2 separate regions of the Homo sapiens genome follow, and region 1 is linked to region 2. The links come from fine-mapping of genetic effects on gene expression. A gene starts in region 2. The other region holds a variant in brackets. All regions are shown on one strand. Distances are from middle to middle.

What was found. PIP is the estimated chance that this variant, and not a neighbour inherited with it, causes the effect.
Region 1: its variant is fine-mapped to the expression of GGA3 in whole blood (TOPMed, PIP above 0.99).

The regions. Positions count from the first base shown.
Region 1 is chr17:75,233,930-75,243,552 of GRCh38, forward strand. It overlaps NUP85 (nucleoporin 85), which reads left to right. Exons shown (of 19, transcript NM_024844.5): 17 at 708-859; 18 at 1,171-1,272; 19 at 1,649-1,829. The coding sequence ends at 1,750. GGA3 (golgi associated, gamma adaptin ear containing, ARF binding protein 3) reads right to left here. Exons shown (of 17, transcript NM_138619.4): 5 at 9,518-9,623; 6 at 9,134-9,237; 7 at 8,902-8,982; 8 at 8,407-8,544; 9 at 7,686-7,767; 10 at 7,471-7,587; 11 at 6,883-7,128; 12 at 6,413-6,483; 13 at 5,860-6,179; 14 at 5,446-5,642; 15 at 4,985-5,154; 16 at 4,723-4,833; 17 at 2,670-4,460. The coding sequence ends at 4,350. Among named protein-coding and RNA genes, the nearest start is that of GGA3, 23 kb to the right of the region's middle. RefSeq lists silencers at 722-885, 6,719-7,013 and an enhancer at 9,067-9,116. The variant C/A (reference allele first, on the strand shown) is at 6,595.
Region 2 is chr17:75,256,782-75,265,670 of GRCh38, forward strand. GGA3 (golgi associated, gamma adaptin ear containing, ARF binding protein 3) reads right to left here and starts at 4,825. Exons shown (of 17, transcript NM_138619.4): 1 at 4,767-4,825. The coding sequence starts at 4,806. MRPS7 (mitochondrial ribosomal protein S7) reads left to right here and starts at 5,098. Exons shown (of 5, transcript NM_015971.4): 1 at 5,098-5,202; 2 at 5,716-5,907; 3 at 6,023-6,086; 4 at 6,559-6,726. The coding sequence starts at 5,120. RefSeq lists enhancers at 4,231-4,330, 4,801-5,210, 5,007-5,884.

The DNA of each region.
Region 1 (9,623 bases), 22 kb before region 2:
CACCATGTTGGTCAGGCTGGTCTGGAACTCCTGACCTCAAGTGATCCGCCCGCCTCGGCCTCCCAAAGTGCTGGGATTACAGGTGTGAGCTACTGTGCCTGGCCAGTGCCTCCATGTTTCTTCTTTTTTTTTTTTTTTTTGAGACGGAGTCTCACTCTGTCGCCCACGCTGGAGTGCAGTGGTACAATCTTGGCTCACTGCAACCTCCACCTCCCGGGTTCAAGCCATTCTTCCTCCTCAGCCTCCTGAGTAGCTGGGACTACAGGTGCATGCCACCATACCCGGCTAATTTTTGTATTTTTAGTAGAAATGGGGTTTCACCATGTTGGCCAGGTTGGTCTCAAACTCCTGACCTCAGGTGATCCACCTGACTCGGCCTCCCAAAGTGCTGGGGTTACAGGCATAGGCATGAGCCACCACGCCTGGCCTAGTCAATCTCTTTTAATCCATGACTCTTGTTATGTATTTTGACTCTGATGTTTCCCCAGATTTGGCTCTTCGGAGTTCTTCCAAGTCTGTTTTGAATGCTCTTGGTCTGCATCTCATTGGGACCTATGAGTTTGGAGACAGAAAAAAATCTCCTGCTTTGTGGAGTGGCTGGTCTGAGGTTTTTCTTCTCCTGTTTAGGGCCAGGGTGACTTTTGTAGGTGTCACTTGGGCAATTTGGGGGAATATGCAGGTTACTCAGTGCTCTTGTTTCGCCATAGGAAAGTATCGCGAGTTCCACCGTATGTACGGGGAGAAGCGTTTTGCCGACGCAGCTTCTCTCCTTCTGTCCTTGATGACGTCTCGGATTGCCCCTCGGTCTTTCTGGATGACTCTGCTGACAGACGCCTTGCCCCTTTTGGAACAGAAACAGGTGAAGGTTGCAGCAGCAGTGGTTTTCTTTGCTTGTCAGTCCCTGCTAGAGCTTAGTTGTATAGCTGTTGCCGATGTGCGTGTTTCCTCCTTTGTCGTTCTGCCTGTGCGCGTGTATTCCCCTTAGCGCCCTCTCTGGGATTCCAGACTCACACAGGAAACAAACACTGCTTGATTTGAAATGAGGTATTCGTATACAAAGCACACTATTGCGAAGGGTATGAAAGGAAGAACGTCCGAACATGGGCCCCTGCCCCAACCAATGCAGGCCAGGGCTGGGGGCAGCCAAGCAAGGCAGGCTCTCTTCCCTAGGTGATTTTCTCAGCAGAACAGACTTATGAGTTGATGCGGTGTCTGGAGGACTTGACGTCAAGAAGACCTGTGCATGGAGAATCTGATACCGAGCAGCTCCAGGTCATTTTCACTTTTGGGTTGATGGTTCCACATGGAGGTGGGAAAAGGCTCCCTCTATCTCAGGCTTCCCCTTCCCTCCAGAAACACTGGCTCCTATGGACACATGTGCCTCTGTTCCCCTTAACCTGTGTAATTCACACACCACCTTCTTTTAGGAGAAAATCAGGGATTCTAGTGTTCTCATCTCTACATTTTGTTCTTTGCTGTTCATCATTTCCAGTATGGCCCTTTGGTATTGCTTTCTTTTACATCGATAATTTGCTGGAAGCTACTATGAATGTTAAGTGCCCTCTACCTTTGGATTAGCTAGACCCTTCGGGAGTGTGAAAGGGCTCCTTCCTGCTCTTAGCTCATGCTGGCGCTCTCTGCTTTGCAGGATGATGACATAGAGACCACCAAGGTGGAAATGCTGAGACTTTCTCTGGCACGAAATCTTGCTCGGGCAATTATAAGAGAAGGCTCACTGGAAGGTTCCTGAGAACTGCTTCAATGTGGTATCTTTGTATGGCAATGTATATAGATTTTTTTAAAAGAATAAATGTTGTTTTGCAAATGTAGGTTCTTAGAGTCCACCCAGGGAATTTTTTATCTGTCTAGTCTGAACCTGAGGTGGTAAGAGATTAAAAAATGCTTGTTTTATGTTCTTTTTTTTTTGAGACGGAGTCTTGCACTGTTGCCTGGCCTGGAGTGCAATGGCACGATCTCAGCTCACTGCAACCTCCGCCTCCAGGGTTCACGTGATTCTCCTGCCTCAGCCTCCCAAGTAGCTGGGATTATAAGTGCACACCATACCCAGCTAATTTTTTTGTATTTTTAGTAGAGATGGGGTTTCACTGTGTTGGCCAGACTGATCTCAAACTCCTGACCTTGTGATCTGCCCGCCTTGGCCTCTCACAGTGCTGGGATTACAGGCGTGAACCACCACACCCGGCCTTGTTTTATGTTCTGATACGCAACTGTCTTCCTGTGCCTCCTTAGATAAGAAATCACCCCCCAGGTCGGGTGCAGTGGCTCACGTCCTGTAATCCCAGCACTTTGGGAGGATCCCTCAACCCCAGGAGTTTGAGACCAACCTGGGCAACATAGGGAGACTCCATCTCTGTTTAAAAAAAAAAAAAAAAAAAACCCCAAAGTTGTGGTGACTGCAGTGTCTTGGAAGTCTGAACAAGAACGCTTGGTGGTATACTTGTGCTTCTGAAATCTTGCCTCACCTCTTCTGGAACACTTAACATTTTGGTTATTTAGTTCCCTTAAAATATAAGCGTACAGGAACCCGCACTTTTAACAAAAACCTTGGGCAGTTCTATCATAGGCTGTCCTCATGTATATCTAGAATTCATAGGTGGTACCTTTTCCTCCATCAGGGTGAATGGCGTCTATACTAGGAAGATTCCAAGTACAGTGAAAATGGTTTTATTTAACATGCAGCAAAACAAGGGCAGCAGAGCTGGGATATCCAGTACAGCCATTTGCCACGAAGCACTGACCTCAACAGTAACGAGTAACACTCAAATAACTGTAATGTCTAGAGCATAACACAAAGTTCCATTTCCACATAGTAATTCCACAGACATTCCCAGGGCTGCAGCAGCCAGTCTCTGGAAAGCTCTTGGATTTATTCCTTAAGTAGTGAAAAATGATTCACTTTTGACTTGTCCTCTTCTAATGAAGCAGTGAAACCTGCTTGCTAAAGACAGCGAGGGGCAGGGAAGGGATATGACCTCTTCCCATAGTAAGGAATAAGGAAGCCTGGCAAGGGGCAGGGAGGAACCAGGGAACATGGTCTGTGCCACCTTCCTTTCCCCAGAGATGTCCGATTGCTGAGCTTGTTCACCTGGGCTCCGCAAGCTTCCCCCGTGTCTATGGCAGCTGGTGATTTTTTTTTTGTGACGGAGGCTTGGAGTACATGTCCCAGGATCACATCCAGCAGCTAGAGTGGCTGGGACAAGCTGGCGGGGGCCAAGCACTGTTGAAGCAATAGGGTCTGGTGACTCAGCTCAAGTGTGGCCCGATCTCATCACCTCCAGACCCAACATCTCGCTGACAGTGCCCCTCAGTAGCTGGGGAACAGTTGAGGTTTCTGGGCAGCACATTAGGACATATGTCTAGTGTAACATTTGTGATCCTGAGGCCTCCTGTGTCCAGCCACAGGTGCCACACCACATGCCATCTGGTGAGAGGAGAGGGAGGCCAAAGCAGTAGGATGTAGAGTGGCGGTAGATTCCAAGGGGAGGATAGCAGTTTATTTCATGCCAAGCAAGAGGTAGTCAGTAGGATGGCCTGTCCCCACGGCTGGAGGCACGCTTTTCCCAGAAAGCTGAGTACCTGCTTCTGGAGAAGGGGAAATACTGGCTCTCTTCATTTTCCTTCCTATCCCTAGTTGGGCCTGTCATGAGGCCAAATTCCATGTCCTGCCAAGATGTCCATAGGACACAGCCTGCCACTGCCAGGGACAAGCACACAACTCATCACTCCGTGGCCATTCCAGGACGATGCTGTCCACCAGAGGCAGGGCTGGGGACTTTGCAGTATGCCAGTTCCTTATTCTGGGCCAGGCACCTTCCTGGGCCACCTCCCTGGGGATGGCAGCAGGAGCTGGTTGGCGGGGGAAGCATGGAATTGCAACAGGGCTGCAGCCCCTTGGGCCGTGCATCTGTCAGGTGTGAGGATGTGGCTCTTGTGGGGAATGACCCATGACAGTCTCTCTTTAGAGACTCCCACCCCCCACCCCCCACCCCAGTGGCTTCAGTGAATGCCAGTAGAAGGAAGCAAACACCTACGCCAAGCCTGGGGGTCCATGTTCCCGGGACAGCAGTGAAGTCAGGGGCCACTCCGCACCCCTGACAGCATATGGCCACTTCAAGTCACACAGGTAGATAAAAACAGGTCCTTTTAGGGGCCAAAGGAGAGGTTATCACAGCAGCAGTTTGGTTCTCAGCAGAAATGCCCAGGGCCCCTGTTCCACATCAAAGCTACAAGCACTGTTGTCAGGGCATGGAGAGTGACGGGACCAGAGCCCTCCTCGTCTCAGGGCAGCCTGCCTGGCTTCAAGGTGGAGATCACAGCGTCCTCTGGGGTCATAGGTTCCCCCACTGTTCCACAGGAGGGAACTGGTCCACCTCGCCCACCTCTGTGCTCAGCTGCTCCCCCAGGGCGAAGGTCAGCTTATACCGAAGCCGCACCTTCTCCTGTGACAGAGGGCAGCAAGTGAGATCCAGCCCAGGCGGCCCCTTGGCAGGACGCCCTCTATTCTGCTACCCTCTCTGTGCTAGAGGAATGGTCCCTTTTCCCCGCAACCCCCAACCATGCTCAGACACTTAACCTAAGGCAGCAAAGGGATGTGTCAATCCTACAGTCAAAACACTTCCAGCTGGGAGGTGGTGGGCCTGACGTCCTAATCTGGGGCAGCTGGGGCCTCAGGCTGGGACCCCTGGGTTCTTTGCTGCTCACCTTCAGTGGATTGGCCAGCAACATGACCTGGGTGATGGCTGCAGGTGGCTGGATGGGGCTAAATGGAGAGAGTTCTGTCCCAGAAGGTGGCTGCAACTTCACTTTCATTGACTAAAGAGAGAGAAACTCCTTTGAAGAGAACTGGTAGGTGCCCCCAGATGGAACCTGCAGTGCACACACACACTGCCACCTGCTGGCTGCAAAGGCCTCTACACAACAGGGTCAAGATAAGGCCGTTTTGGCCCCAGGGAGACACTGGTACCTTGGGCACTGCAGCCTGCAGCACGATGCTCTTGACAGGTAAGGGAGCCGTGTTCAGCATGGACACCACCACCACCAGCACGTCAGGTCGTCCTGGGGGACACTCCTTGGCAAAGTGGAAGAGGATGCGGAAGCCGTTTTTATCGTAGGCTGTCACAGGAAGGGCACTGCCTGTAAGAACGTGACGTGAGTGTGGGAGGAGCAGCACCAGAGACACCCAACAGAGCCCCGGCGGTGAGGAGAAAAGGGCTACTCCGTGGTCATGATGAGTCCAGTGCTTCCTAACGGAATCTGGGAGAGGCGCTCAGTGAGGAGCTTAAGACTGAGAATGCAGGCAGGGAGGCCTGCCTGGCTTTAAGGGACCCCCTGCAAAGAGTGCCTGGATCCATCCCTGTCGCATGTCCTACAGCTCCGTGGCTATAGGCCCCACCGCCCCACCCACCTCAATCCTCCAACACCTACTAGGCTTGATCGATTCCAGGGGCACGTGGATGCTGGCCAGGGAGAGCTCAGGCCCCTTCGGGGGGCTGCCCTGGGACTGGAAACTCAGTGGCTGGAAGAGCGGGCTGCCGGGCCCCGTGGAGAAGGGCAGGAGGGGCCTGGCTGGGGTGGTGGTGGGGATGAGAGGGGAGGTAGTGGGTTTCACCAAGCCCGAGGTCCTGGGAGGTGGGAAGGATGGAAAGCACGTCAGAGAGCCAGCCAGAGCTGCAGGACTCTCACCCAAGGCCCCTGACCATGCTCTTACCCAGGCCCACCCCTTGCCTTCCAGCCTGACTGATGGGACTACAAGGCACCCCCACCCCTTCAAAGTTAGCTCTGGTTCTGACACATTCAGGCCCAACCCTCAGCAACCCCACATCTCCTCCCACTCATTACACTTTGGCCTCTTCTAGAAGCTGATCGAGGGCATCCAGGTGGTGCAGCGCGCTGTTGCCCAACGCCAAGCCATGGTGCCCAGGGACTGCGGGCTCAACTTTTGGGGCCAAGGCTGGGGCCACTCCAGTAGAAAACAAGGAGGAGCCCGCACTGGGGGCAGGAACACTGGCTGGGACCACAGGAGCTGGGAAGGGAGGCGGCAGTGGAGCTTGGGAGCTGCTTGAGGAGGGGGCTGAGGGCTGGAGCAGAGGAGCATCGGAGGCGCCACAGGCAGCGGTCCCCGGCCTGGGGCTGAAGAAGTCCAGGTCGGACTGTTCCCTCTATGAACAACAGAAAGGGTGGTGAGCCGAGGGCGGGTGGGGAGGGCCTGCCGCTGGAACGGGGCGCAGCCCTCCAAGGACTGCACGGAAGACAGCCCCGGAGGCACTCATTGTTCCCCGCTGCAGCTGGCACGCTCTGGAGGGAAGGACAGCTAACTGCAGCCCAGGAGACATGACGCTGGAAAGTGGAGGTCCTTGGCACAGTAGTGCTGTCACCGATCCTGTGCCCCTACCTGGAGCAGGTGCCACTGGCTGTTCCCAGCTGACTCTTTGGGAGGAACATTAGGGGCTGGGTCGGCGAGGCCTGACAATAGAGAAGAAAACAGGATGAGAAGAGGCTCTGAGCTAGGCAGCCCTAGCCCCGCCTTGCCTGAGGAGGGGTCAGGTGACAAGTGACATCAATGGGTGAAGGCGC[C/A]GGGAGAAGCTGTTCTGCAGGCAGCCTCCAGAGGGGAATGGAGCGCTCCAGTCCATGATGCAGAAGCGGGGGGCCTGTGGGGCGGGGTGCAGGGCAGGAGGCAGAGTCCACCGGGAGGATGGCCCTGGGGCCCTCAGGGTCGCTGAACTTCACTGAGTACCTCCAACTCAGGGTTCTTTGCCCACCCCAACAGTCACACTGGGGCCCCGCTCAGGGCTCCTAATTCCACACACCCTTCCTCCCAGAGCCCTGTCAGGGGATGCCCCTGACGCCCCCTGTGGGCCGCACCCAAGCAGAGTAGCTCCTCGTCCAGCCAGGAGAGGGCGTTGCTTGTGCTGCTGGGCCCCAGGGTGGCCTCGGCCTGGCTAGAGGAGCGGCTCCGTGGAGGTCCTGAGGCCTGGGGTGGTGGAGGGAGGATTGGGATGCCTGAGGAGGGTGGAGTAGGTGCTGGGGCCAACACGGAGGACAAACTGTTGGTCGTGTCCAGCTCCGCAAGGTCGATGAGCGTGCCTTGGTTACTGCACTGACTGTTTCCTGGATGGGTCAACAGAGCAGAACAGGAATAATTAGGGGTCTTCTAGTGGCTGTGTGGCAGGAGGCAGCACCCTAGGCACAGAGGTCACTGCTACAGCCTCTGGCCTAATCCAACGGCATCTCTGCCAGGGGATGCTGCAAAGCAAGCCCGAGAAAGCAGGTGGGGAAATTCCTACCCACATCTCCAGGCCTCCGGGAAGCCGGAGGATTGCTTGGAATGGCAAAGAACTCCCTTGGGCCTTGTGCAACACCACCACGCTGGCCAGCCTACACCCGCAGCTTCATGATAGGGGCCTGAGGCTGGTCTGGAGGAGCCTAGAGTTGGGGACCAGAGCATCTCACCTTCCGAGTCAGGCAGGGTTAAGGTAGCCACCTCGCCATTGATGACCTGCCCTTCAATAATTGTTTTGTAAGAGTTGATGACCCGGGAGAGGTTGTCACTGGCTTGCAGGATGTCCCCTGGAGCAGGAAAGAGAGACTTCTCACTCCTGTTGTGACAGTTCCCACCCACATATCCAAATGCCTGGCTTATCCCTGACCGTCGCTCTTTCACTCACCCAAACTGTTATCATTGTCCTCAGTCTCACTGGCGAGTTTAAATAAAGTCCGCCTCTTGTTCTCACACTGATCAAACAGCTCCTGAAAGAGACTCGGACATAAAAATCAAACCACAAAGGCCCTTAGAGATCATCTGATTCATTCAGGGTTCATGCCCAGAAAATGACCGGGATATGCCAATTGCCACGGTCAATTACCAGCAAAGCTGGGATCACAGCGCACGTCTTCTTGCCACCAGCCACCACCACCACACCACATCACCCAGGATGTTTGTCTAGGTAGCAGTCACCAGGATGGGTCAGGGGAAGTCAGTCCCCTCCTGCCTTCCAGGCTGGCATGTTCCTCAGAACTCAAAATATCCACCCAACCATGGCCTGCACCACATGGGCATCAGGGTTACAAGGAAGCCTCTCTGTCTTGATGTCCCCAAGGTAGTAAGGAAAGGGAGAGAGCAGGGGTGAGCACCGAGAGTGTGGTCTCTGGAGTCAGACTCAGGTTTCCATCTGGCCCTTACACCCTGGACAAGTCAGCTGATCCCAGGAGGCAAATGGGGACGCCACCCTCTACTGACGTGGCTGCTGTGCAGATGAGTAAGGTCATGAATACACTGCCAAGTGCACAGCCCGTGTCTCTGACAAGGCACGTGCTCAGCAAATGCTGGCTGAGCTCCTGAAGGGCAGCGCAGCCCCGGGAGGCAGCCTTTGCCGTCGGCGGTCCCACCTTCATCAGCTCTCTGTCCCCGTCCGAAGAGTCCTCCTGGCTGTAATGAAGCAGCATCTCACTGAGCAGTCTCACGTTGTTGTTAACTTCCTCTAACGTGTGCAGACGCTTGGTCACCTTCTGGATCCGTGCCTCGTCCTGCCCCAGTGAAGAAGTTCAAGAGAAAGAGAGCGTCACTTGACTGTCTTTCCACTTCCACCAGGTCACACCTTACCCCACAACACAAGTACAGACGCTCGGAAGCTCCTTTCAGTGTGGGGTGCCTGGGGCCCAGTCTATACTTCTGCTTTCACAACACTGCTCCCAACCCACTCCTCTCTTCCGTGCTCCCGCGGAAGCTATTGTGCTCCTCCTCCCACTCTCAGCCACCGGGGCACAGGTAGGGCAGCTGGCAGCAGGGGAGAACAAAACAGGCCCGTGTCCGGGGCAAAGCGGCTTCTGCTGTGTGGCCATGGGCTCCTCCACCCCGTGCCTGAAGGACCGGGGCCCACTCACTTCCTTCACCATGGACTTGATGAGCTTGTTGGCCTCCTGCAGGTCATCTGGGTTTTTGCTTTTCAGCAGCTTGGCTAAAAGCTGAGAGAGGAGGAAATCAGAGGTGAAGGGAAGAGGCAGCACCCGTACCCCAGGGAAACCCCAGAGGCTCCCCGCAGCACAGTGCAAACCACATTCCCCTGCTGCCACCCACTCTCGTATGAGAAAATCCCAGGCCCAGGGTGTCCTTTACCTTGGACTTCTCCTCATCATCAAAAACAGGGTTTTTGGGACGAGGTGGTGGAGAGGGGATCAGCGTCCTATCCACAGGAATTGGTGGGTCAGACTGCACTATGCCTGAAAGGGGACATGGCAGCACGTGCACTCAGGCTGTGGTTGCCTTGTCACCCCTCCTCATACACCAAGGGCCACGTCCCTGTGATCAAGACCTGCAAAGGGTAGCAGGGTGGAGGGCAGGCTGCTACACCTTATCCCATCCAACTCCGACTCAGCCTTGCCTGGGGACAAATGCTGTTCTCTTCAGGAGGGACTCTGGGGATCCCAAACCTTCCCTTCTCTCCTTGCCTGGGCCAGCCTTCGAGGGCTGCCTGGAGGCTGCGGGCAGGCAGACACGTACCCTGTCTCTTCAGCATGTGGTAGGCGTCTTTGATCTTTGCTTCTTCTGGCAGGGCCATGGTCCAGCTGTACAGCAGCTCAATAACCTTGGTCTTCACTTTCTCAGA
Region 2 (8,889 bases):
TGGCAAATTAGCTTTACTCAACATGCCCCGAGTCAGATAACTAAAATACCTCTTAGTCTAAGTAGACACTTTCACTAGGTAAGTAGAGGCCTTTCCTACAGGGTCTGAGAAGGCCACCGCAGTCATTTCTTCCCTTCGGTCAGACACAATTCCTCAGTTTAGCCTTCCCACCTCTATACAGTCTAACAGACCAGCCCTTATTAGTCAAATCAGCCAAGCAGTTTCTCAGGCTCTTAGTATTCAGTGAAACCTTTATATCCCTTACGGTCCTCCGTCTTCAAGAAAAGCAGAACGGACTAAAGGTCTTTTAAAAACACTTCACCAAGCTCAGCCACCAACTTAAAAAGGACTGGACAATACTTTTACCACTTTCCCTTCTCAGAAGTCAGACCTGTCCTCAGAATGCTACAAGGTACAGCCCATTTAAGCTCCTGTATAGATGCTCCTTTTTATTAGGCCCCAGTCTCATTCCAGACACCAGACCAACTTAGACTGTGCCCCCCCCCCCAAAAAAAACCTGTCATCATCCCTACTATCTTCTGTCTAGTCATACTCCTATTCAACGTTCTCAACTACTCATACATGCCCTGCTCTTGTTTACACTGCTGGTTTACACTGTTTCTCCAAGCCATCACAGGTGATATCTCCTCGTGCTATCCCCAAACTGCCACTCTTAACTCTTGAAGTAAATAAATAATCTTTGCTGGCAGGACTATGCTGAATCTCCTTAGGCACTCTCTAATCAGATGTCCTAGGTCCTCCCAATTCTTAGACCTTTTATACCTGTTTTTCTCCTTCTCTTATTCCACTTAGTTTTTCAATTCATACAAAACCATATCCAGGCCATCACCAATCATTCTATACGACAAATGTTTCTTCTAACATCCCCACAAGATCTCCCTTCGGCTTAATCTCTCCCACTCTAGGTTCCCACGCCGCCCCTAATCCCACTTGAAGCAGCCCTGAGAAACATCGCCCATTCTCTCTCCATACCACCCCACAAAAATTTTCGCTGCCCCAACACTTCAACACTATTTTGTTTTATTTTTCTTATTAATATAAGAAGGCAGGAATGTCAGGCCTGAGCCCAAGCCAAGCCATCGCATCCCCTATGACTTGCACGTACACATCCAGATGGCCTGACGTAACTGAAGATCCACAAAAGAAGTAAAAATAGCCTTAACTGATGACATTCCACCATTGTGATTTGTTTCTGCCCCACCCTAACTGATCAATGTACTTTGTAATCTCCCCCACCCTTAAGAAGGTTCTTCGTAATTCTCCCCACCCTTGAGAATGTACTTTGTGAGATCCATCCCTGCCCGCAAAACATTGCTCTTAACTTCACCGCCTATCCCAAAACCTGTAAGAACTAATGATAATCCACCACCCTTTGCTGACTCTCTTTTCGGACTCAGCCTGCCTGCATCCAGGTGAAATAAACAGCCATGTTGCTCACACAAAGCCTGTTTGGTAGTCTCTTCACACGGACGCGCATGAAACCTATATCAAATCAAGCCTCTTAAGACACCAAAACACCGATTTCACCTAGTACAGAAGGAATGAGGGCCTGATAACTGCAGAAATTTAAACTTCTTCGGCTGGGCTGGGCGTGGTAGCTCAAGCCTGTAATCCCAACACTTTGGAGGGAGCTGAGGCAGGTGGCTCACTTGAGGTCAAGAGTTTGACAACAGCCTGGCCAACATGGTGAAACCCCATCTCTACTAAAAATACAAAAATGAGCCAGGTGTAGTGGCACATACCAGTAGTCCCAGCTACTTGGGAGGCTGAGGATGGAGAATTGCTTGCACCTAAGCAACGGAAGTTGCAGTGAGCCGAGATTGTGCCACTGCATTCCAGCCTGGGTGACAGTGCAAGACTCTGTCTCAAATAAATAAATAAATAAAATAAACTTCTTGGGCTGGAAATTGGAGACTTGGTAGAATCTGGTCTTAACTTCCCAGCCTTATCTTCCCTCATTCCCAAACACCTCTGTTACTGTGTGCCCCAAACAGGTTTGCTCTCTCCACATCACCATCTAGTGTTTTTTTTTTTCCAACTTTTCCCATTATTTAATGGCTAGCTCAAATGGAGTATCCTCAATGAATCATCTCTTCCCCCATCCCCAGTTCCCTAAAGAGAATGCCGGCGTTTTAGCACTGCCTTGTATCTTTTTTTTTTTTTTTTTTGGAGACGGAGTCTCGCTCTGTCACCGAGGCTGGAGTGCAGTGGCACAATCCCAGCTCACTGCAAGCTCCACCTCTCGGGTTCACACCATTCTCCTGCCTCAGCCTCCCGTGTAGCTGGGACTACAGGCGCCCGCCACTACGCCTGGCTATTTTTTTGTATTTTTTAGTAGAGACGGGGTTTCACTGTGTTAGCCAGGATGGTCTCGATCTCCTGACCTCGTGATCCACCCGCCTCGGCCTCCCAACGTGCTGGGATTACAGGAGAGTTCTTCATCCACTCCAGCATCACCTCCATCCAACTAAAGGCAAAATCTTCTTAAACTTCCTAACTCCTATAACACCCCACGTAGCAGGTACTCATTAAACATTGATTGATTGATCATGGTGGGACTTGAAAGAAGACTGAAGTCATCAAGAGATGGTTTGTGAGAAAAGAGAATCTGAGATGGGTTTTCAAGCATTTAGTTGAGGAAACGGGAGCAGGGCTTCCAGGTAAGGAGAGCAACGTGTATTGGTAAACCAAGAACATCAGACTGAGTAGAGCAGGAAAACGTAGAAGCCACAGAGAAAAAGGCCTGGAACAACCAAGGCCAGATTACAGGCAACAGTGGAATGATTTGATTCAACACAAGTGCGCTTCTGGGAGCAGAATGGACTGAGGAGAGGTGAGGACGGGAGAGACCTGGGTCTCTGGGCCAAGCAGAGGCTTCTGCAACAATTCAGGCAAACGTGGGGTGACAAGGACGCTGACTGAGACGATGCTGAACCCCAACTGCTGGTTTGTTCAACTGGTACAGTTCACATTAAGTCGTAACAACTGTGAAGCTTATGTCTCTACAGATACCATGTGACTCCCCCCCACCAAGTGTGTCCCTCTCATTTCATAATGTGACTCTAGGCTGGGTGCGGTAGCTCACGTGTGTAATCCCAGCGCTTTGTAAGGGAAAGGTGGGAGGATCACTTGAACTCGAGTTTGAGACCATCCTGGGCAACACAGCAAGACCTCATCTCTACTAAAAATCAAAAGAATTAGCCAAGCATGGTGGCGTGTGCCTATAGTCCCAGCTACTCAGGAGGCTGAGGTAGAAGACTTATTTGAGCACAGGGGTTCAAGGCTGCAGTGAGCTATGATCGCACCCCTGCACTCCAGCCTAGACAACAGCGCGCGAGACTCTGTCTCAAAAACAAGTAACAAAAACAAAATGTAACTCTAAATGTAGCCTATTAAACTCAGCTTAGGTCATTTAAATTATTCAATACCCATATTAATACCTTCAAAGCAAACTAATTCCACTCTGGTTATAGCAAGTTGGGCATTTCTGGGCAAGTGGTTTGACTGGAGTCAGGATGTCCTCTTTTTGTGAAATTATGGCAGTAGTGCCTGCTTTGCTAGAATACTTGGTAAACTAATTTAATGAATATCTGTAAAGTACTTTGAGCTCCTTGGAGAACACTTCCATATATAAAGAAGCCTTATGACCTGCCTGCAACTGCAGATTTTGCAAACGTGATCTTACTTTTTCTCTCTTTTGGGATATGCTCCCCTTTAAACTGAAGCTCAACCTCCTGAAGGGGGTTTCTTACTAGGAAAAATCAGACAATTTGAGGAAATAGCTATCACCTCCAAGATCCCGGAAGCAGTACTAAATAAGAGACCTCAGAACAAGGCAATACTAGGTATCTCACCTATCCCATTACCAGTCCAATTTCTCTCTCCACTTAAAGGAGGCTTCCAGGTCTAGCCTACAGGAAAGTTCACTTATTAACCCTCAGGCAGAGTACTACCTGCTAACCAGGTTAACACACATTTCCTTCGTAGCACTGTAATTCACAGTGCAATGACAGCAATACGCTTCTATAACTACAGCTTCAGACTGTGCTCCTCAGCCTTACTCAGAATAGGCTATCAACACTGACTCGTTAGGATATTCAAGGGGGTATATGTATGTGTGTGGGGGGGGAATTCCCGACACCGATTTCACCATGCTTCTGTGGTCACTGCAGGAAAAAGGTAGAGCTCTCTGTTCTCTATCATCGCTCTCTTTGGAATATTATTCTCACTTCAAGCATTCTGCCTGAGCGAAGCCGTCACTTCTCCAACACATGGTCACAATTCTGAAGCTGCCAGGCGACTGAACGCAGTCGGCAGCACCCACCACTACCGGAGACTCAGCCCCAATCCGAAGCTTCTCCCTTAGTCAGGGATTGGGGCGCTGGGTTCCTGGTGTCACCGCCGGGCGGCGACCCCACCACAATCTCCCCAAAGCGCCGAAGCATGTCAGCCCGAAGATCTTGGCTGTCGCCTTTCCCCGAGCCTGCGGTGCCCGACAGGAGCCCGAGTTCACGCCGCCGCGCGCCAGAGCAAGAGGACGCGCCGCAGCGAGGGAAGCGGGGGCCGGACTGGGGCCCGGCGCCCTGATAGGGAAGGGGCGTGATCGCAGGCTGCTCGCGGCGAGGGCGAGACCGGGCGTGGGCTGCCAAGAGGCGACGCCGTGGAGCCCGGGGAGGGGACGTGGGGGTGAAGACAGGGGCAGCCCAGCGGCTCGAGGGCAGGCAGAAACGGCCGCGGCTACTCACTGAGCCAGGACTCCAGGCTTTCCCCTTCCGCCTCCGCCATATTGCAGCCGCCCGGCCCCGCGGCTTCAAAACTCGCGAGAGTCTGCACGAGCTGAGACGGGGCGGGGCCTGCATGGGGTCCTGAGAGGAGTGAGTGCCGTCACCGAGGGCCGCGCCAGACTGCGACGGATACAGGGAGGGCAAGGGTTTCCTTTTGGCGCTCCCCTTTGGACCCCGGAGTGAAAAACTCTAACGTCCAGATCAGTGGAGAGAAACGCAGATTTAGGACCCTGAGGAGTCTTTTTCACCCGTTTCCCGTCACTCGCTCAGGCGCGCCGAGGGCAGTCCTTGTGGGGTCCTCGTGGCCAGCCAAGATGGCTGCCCCCGCAGTGAAGGTTGCCCGAGGATGGTCGGGCCTGGCGTTGGGCGTGCGGCGGGCTGTCTTGCAGCTTCCAGGGTGAGAGGGTGGCGAGCAGCGGCGGGGGGGCGCTGCGAGGAAGGAAGGGGGCCACAGGCAGGCCGCGTGGGCCCCTAGAGAGAGCATTGCCCTGGGGGCCGGAGTATCTGGATTCAAGCTTCTAAGTTAGCTGCGTGACCCTGCGCCAATCCGAAGGTTTAGTGACTACCTCTCGCCTAAGGAGTCTGGCTGATCTAGGGTTCTAACGCGGAGCTGAAAGTGCGGTTCAGCTAAAGAGCTCAGATCTGGGATCGCCTGTGAATTGGGATGGGTGTGTAGGCGCCAAGCCCATCCTTACCGTTAGCACTTGACCAGGAGGAGACTTTACCCGCCTGCTTGGGGAATGTCCTCCTACTTGGGACAAGGGCCTGAATTGTTGTGGCTCAGGTTTAGCTCGCGGTCTCCGCGCCGCTCCCCCTCGTCGGCGCGTTGGCAGTCATGCCTATTGTTAAGTCAAACCTACTCGCTTGTGGAGTCAGCTTTTGCCTGCCTCCTCCTTTCCCCCCCTCCCAGGCTAACTCAGGTGAGATGGAGCCGCTATAGTCCTGAATTCAAGGATCCCTTGATTGACAAGGAATATTATCGCAAGCCAGTGGAGGAGCTAACTGAGGAGGAGAAATATGTTCGGGAGCTCAAGAAGACTCAGCTCATCAAAGCTGCTCCAGCAGGGAAAACAAGTTCTGTGTTTGAAGACCCAGTCATCAGGTTAGATGGAAACAAACACTTGTTACATGGACTGGGACTATCCCAGGGAGGGTTTCTGGTGAGGATTCTGTGATACAGCCTTGGAGAGCTAAACGTGTTGCTTTTCTCTTTGAAGTAAATTCACCAACATGATGATGATAGGAGGAAACAAAGTACTGGCCAGATCCCTCATGATTCAGGTAAACAGCACTTCCCTCCTCAGTCATCTTTCTTGCCCCCCTACCCCGTAGCCTTGTACTTGGTACTTTCAGTGTAGCTTAAGAGCAAATGGATTCATGTATCTATTATTCAGATTAACTTCCCTGCATGTGTACGGGCTTTAATGAAGCCCTGTAAGAGTCAGCAACTGCCATTCCTTGGTGTTTCGGAAGTAAACACACAATTAAAAAAAAAGGAACAAATAAAAAATAAAACAACTGCCATTCCCCACCTCACCCCCCACCCCCTCCATGCCACAAATCTCAATCCACTCTTTCTGTCCTAGTCTAGCAAAGGGGGAGGCACTTAAAAACTTTGTTTTGGATGTGCTGTGAGAGGAGCTGCATTGCCAGCGCAGAACCAGAGGATGGGAGTAAAGGGCAAGGTACTAGCTTGGCTGGGTAAACCCTTTAGGGAGCCTGGGGCAGCCTCTTCCACCATATTCTTTTGCAGACTCTGGAAGCTGTGAAAAGGAAGCAGTTTGAGAAGTACCATGCCGCTTCTGCAGAGGAACAGGCAACCATCGAACGCAACCCCTACACCATCTTCCATCAAGCACTGAAAAACTGTGAGCCTATGATTGGGCTGGTACCCATCCTCAAGGGAGGCCGTTTCTACCAGGTGAATGAATGGCCAGGGCAAGAAAGCAGGGCCCTCCACATGTGAAACAAGATAGGTGGTGCTTGGGAGTTGGGTCAAGATTGATAGCTTTCTAGCTGGTGCAGTGGGATTGCACCTGTAATCTCAGCACTTTGGGAGCCTAATGCAGGATAGCTTGAGCTCAGGAGTTAAGAGACAGCAGGGCAACATAGGGAGATCCCGTCTCTACAAAAAAAACAAAAAAATTAGCCAGGTGTGGTGGTGTGCATCTGTGCTCCCAACTACTCAGGAGGCTGAGGTAGGAGGATCACTTGAGTCCAGGAGGTCAAGGCTGCAGTGAGTTATGATTACGCCCCTGCATTCCAGCCTGGGCAAGAGAGAGAAACCTTGTCTCAGAAAAAAAAAAAAAAAAAACGGCTGGGCACGGTGGCTCACACCTGTAATCCCAGCACTTTGGGAGGCCGAGGTGGATGGATTACCTGAGGTGGGGAGTTCGAGATCAACAAGGAGAAACCCTGTTTCTACTAACAATACAAAATTAGCCAGGTGTGGTGGCACATACCAGTAGTCCCAGCTACTTGGGAGGCTGAAGCAGGAGAATCGCTTGAACCCAGGATGCAGAGGTTGCAGTGAGCCGAGAGCACACCACCGCACTCCAGCCTGGCAACAGAGCAAGACGCCATCTCAAAAAAAAAAAAAAAAAAAGAATTGAGACTGTTACGGTCCACTCATCTGAGTCCTGTAGCGTAAAAATTATAGGCAGAAGGTGGAAGAGAGTGAAGAAGTATCTAAGTGACATCTGGGAGCCCACCTCCCTTCGCCTTCTTCTGTCAAGCATCCTGTGTGTCCTAACCTGTAAAATTCTCATGGCGAGGGACTATTCATATCCTGTCTTTGTATGCCAGTGTTTGGCATAGTGCTTGACCGATAACTGATGCTTCATCAGTGTTTGCTGAACAGTACTAGGTATCTCTTTCATAGCATTTAATTATATTTTATTGTCCTGAGTTTTCTTGTGTTCTCCTTTTTCAATATCAACTCCATGGGGTAGGGACTTCATTATTGTCTGCACTCTCGTGTCTGGCATGGTACTGACGCATAGTGAGGGCCTGACAAATGATTTTTGGACACGGGGTCTTGTTTTTGGTTTTCTTTAACTGTTTGTATAGGGTCTTTTTGTTTTTAACTTTTTTTTTTTTTTTTGAGATGGAGTTTCGCTTTTGTTGCCCAGACTGGAGTGCAGTGCTGTAATCTCAGCTCTCGGCTCACTGCAGCCTCCGCCTCCCGGGTTCAAGAGATTCTCCTGTCTCAGTCCCTGCCCACCCCAAGTAGCTGGGATTACAGGTGGCCGCCACCATGCCCAGCTAATTTTTTTGTATTTTTAGTAGAGACAGGGTTTTGCTGTGTCTGAAGACTGAAGGGGTCTTGTTTTTAGGTACCTATGGTCTGAGGTGGATTAGTCACCCCAGCTAATGGGGCTTTTCCTATTTGGTTCTTATAACAACTTGGTAGGACTACCATTTAGGAGGGAAAATGGCCAGTGCTTTTCTTCTTTTTCTTTTTCTTTTTTTTTGAGACGAAGTCTCGCTCTGTTGCCCAGGCTGGAGTGCAGTGGTGCATTCTTGGCTCACTGCAACCTCCGTCTCCTGGGTTCAAGCATTTCTACCTCAGCCTCCCAAGTAGCTGGGATTACAGGCGCCTGCCACCACGCCCAGCTAATTTTTGCATTTTAGTAGAGACGAGGTTTCACCACATTGGCCAGGCTGGTGTCGAAATCCTGACCTCAGGTAATCCACCTGCCTCAGCCTCCCAAAGTGCTGGAATTACAGGCGTGAACCATCGTGCCTGGCCTTCTTTTTTTTTTAATATATGGAGACAGGGTCTTGTTATATTGACGAGGCTGGTCTTGAACTCCTGGGCTCAAGCGATCCTCCTGCCTCAGCCTCCCAAAGTGCTGGGATTACAGGTGTGAACCACAGTGCCGGGAGAGGCCAGTGCTTAATTAGTATTTGCTGAATGAACGCCTCTTATGTCTGCTACACTGGGGTCACCTGAAGGTGAGGGAAGCTCGAAGAAAAGACAGGCCCTTCTCCCCAGGCCTGACCAGGGCTGGTCCAGAGGGAACATGTGGCTACTCCTTAGAATTCAGGGAGGCAGGAGGCCCCAAACCCTGGCAGACTCTTG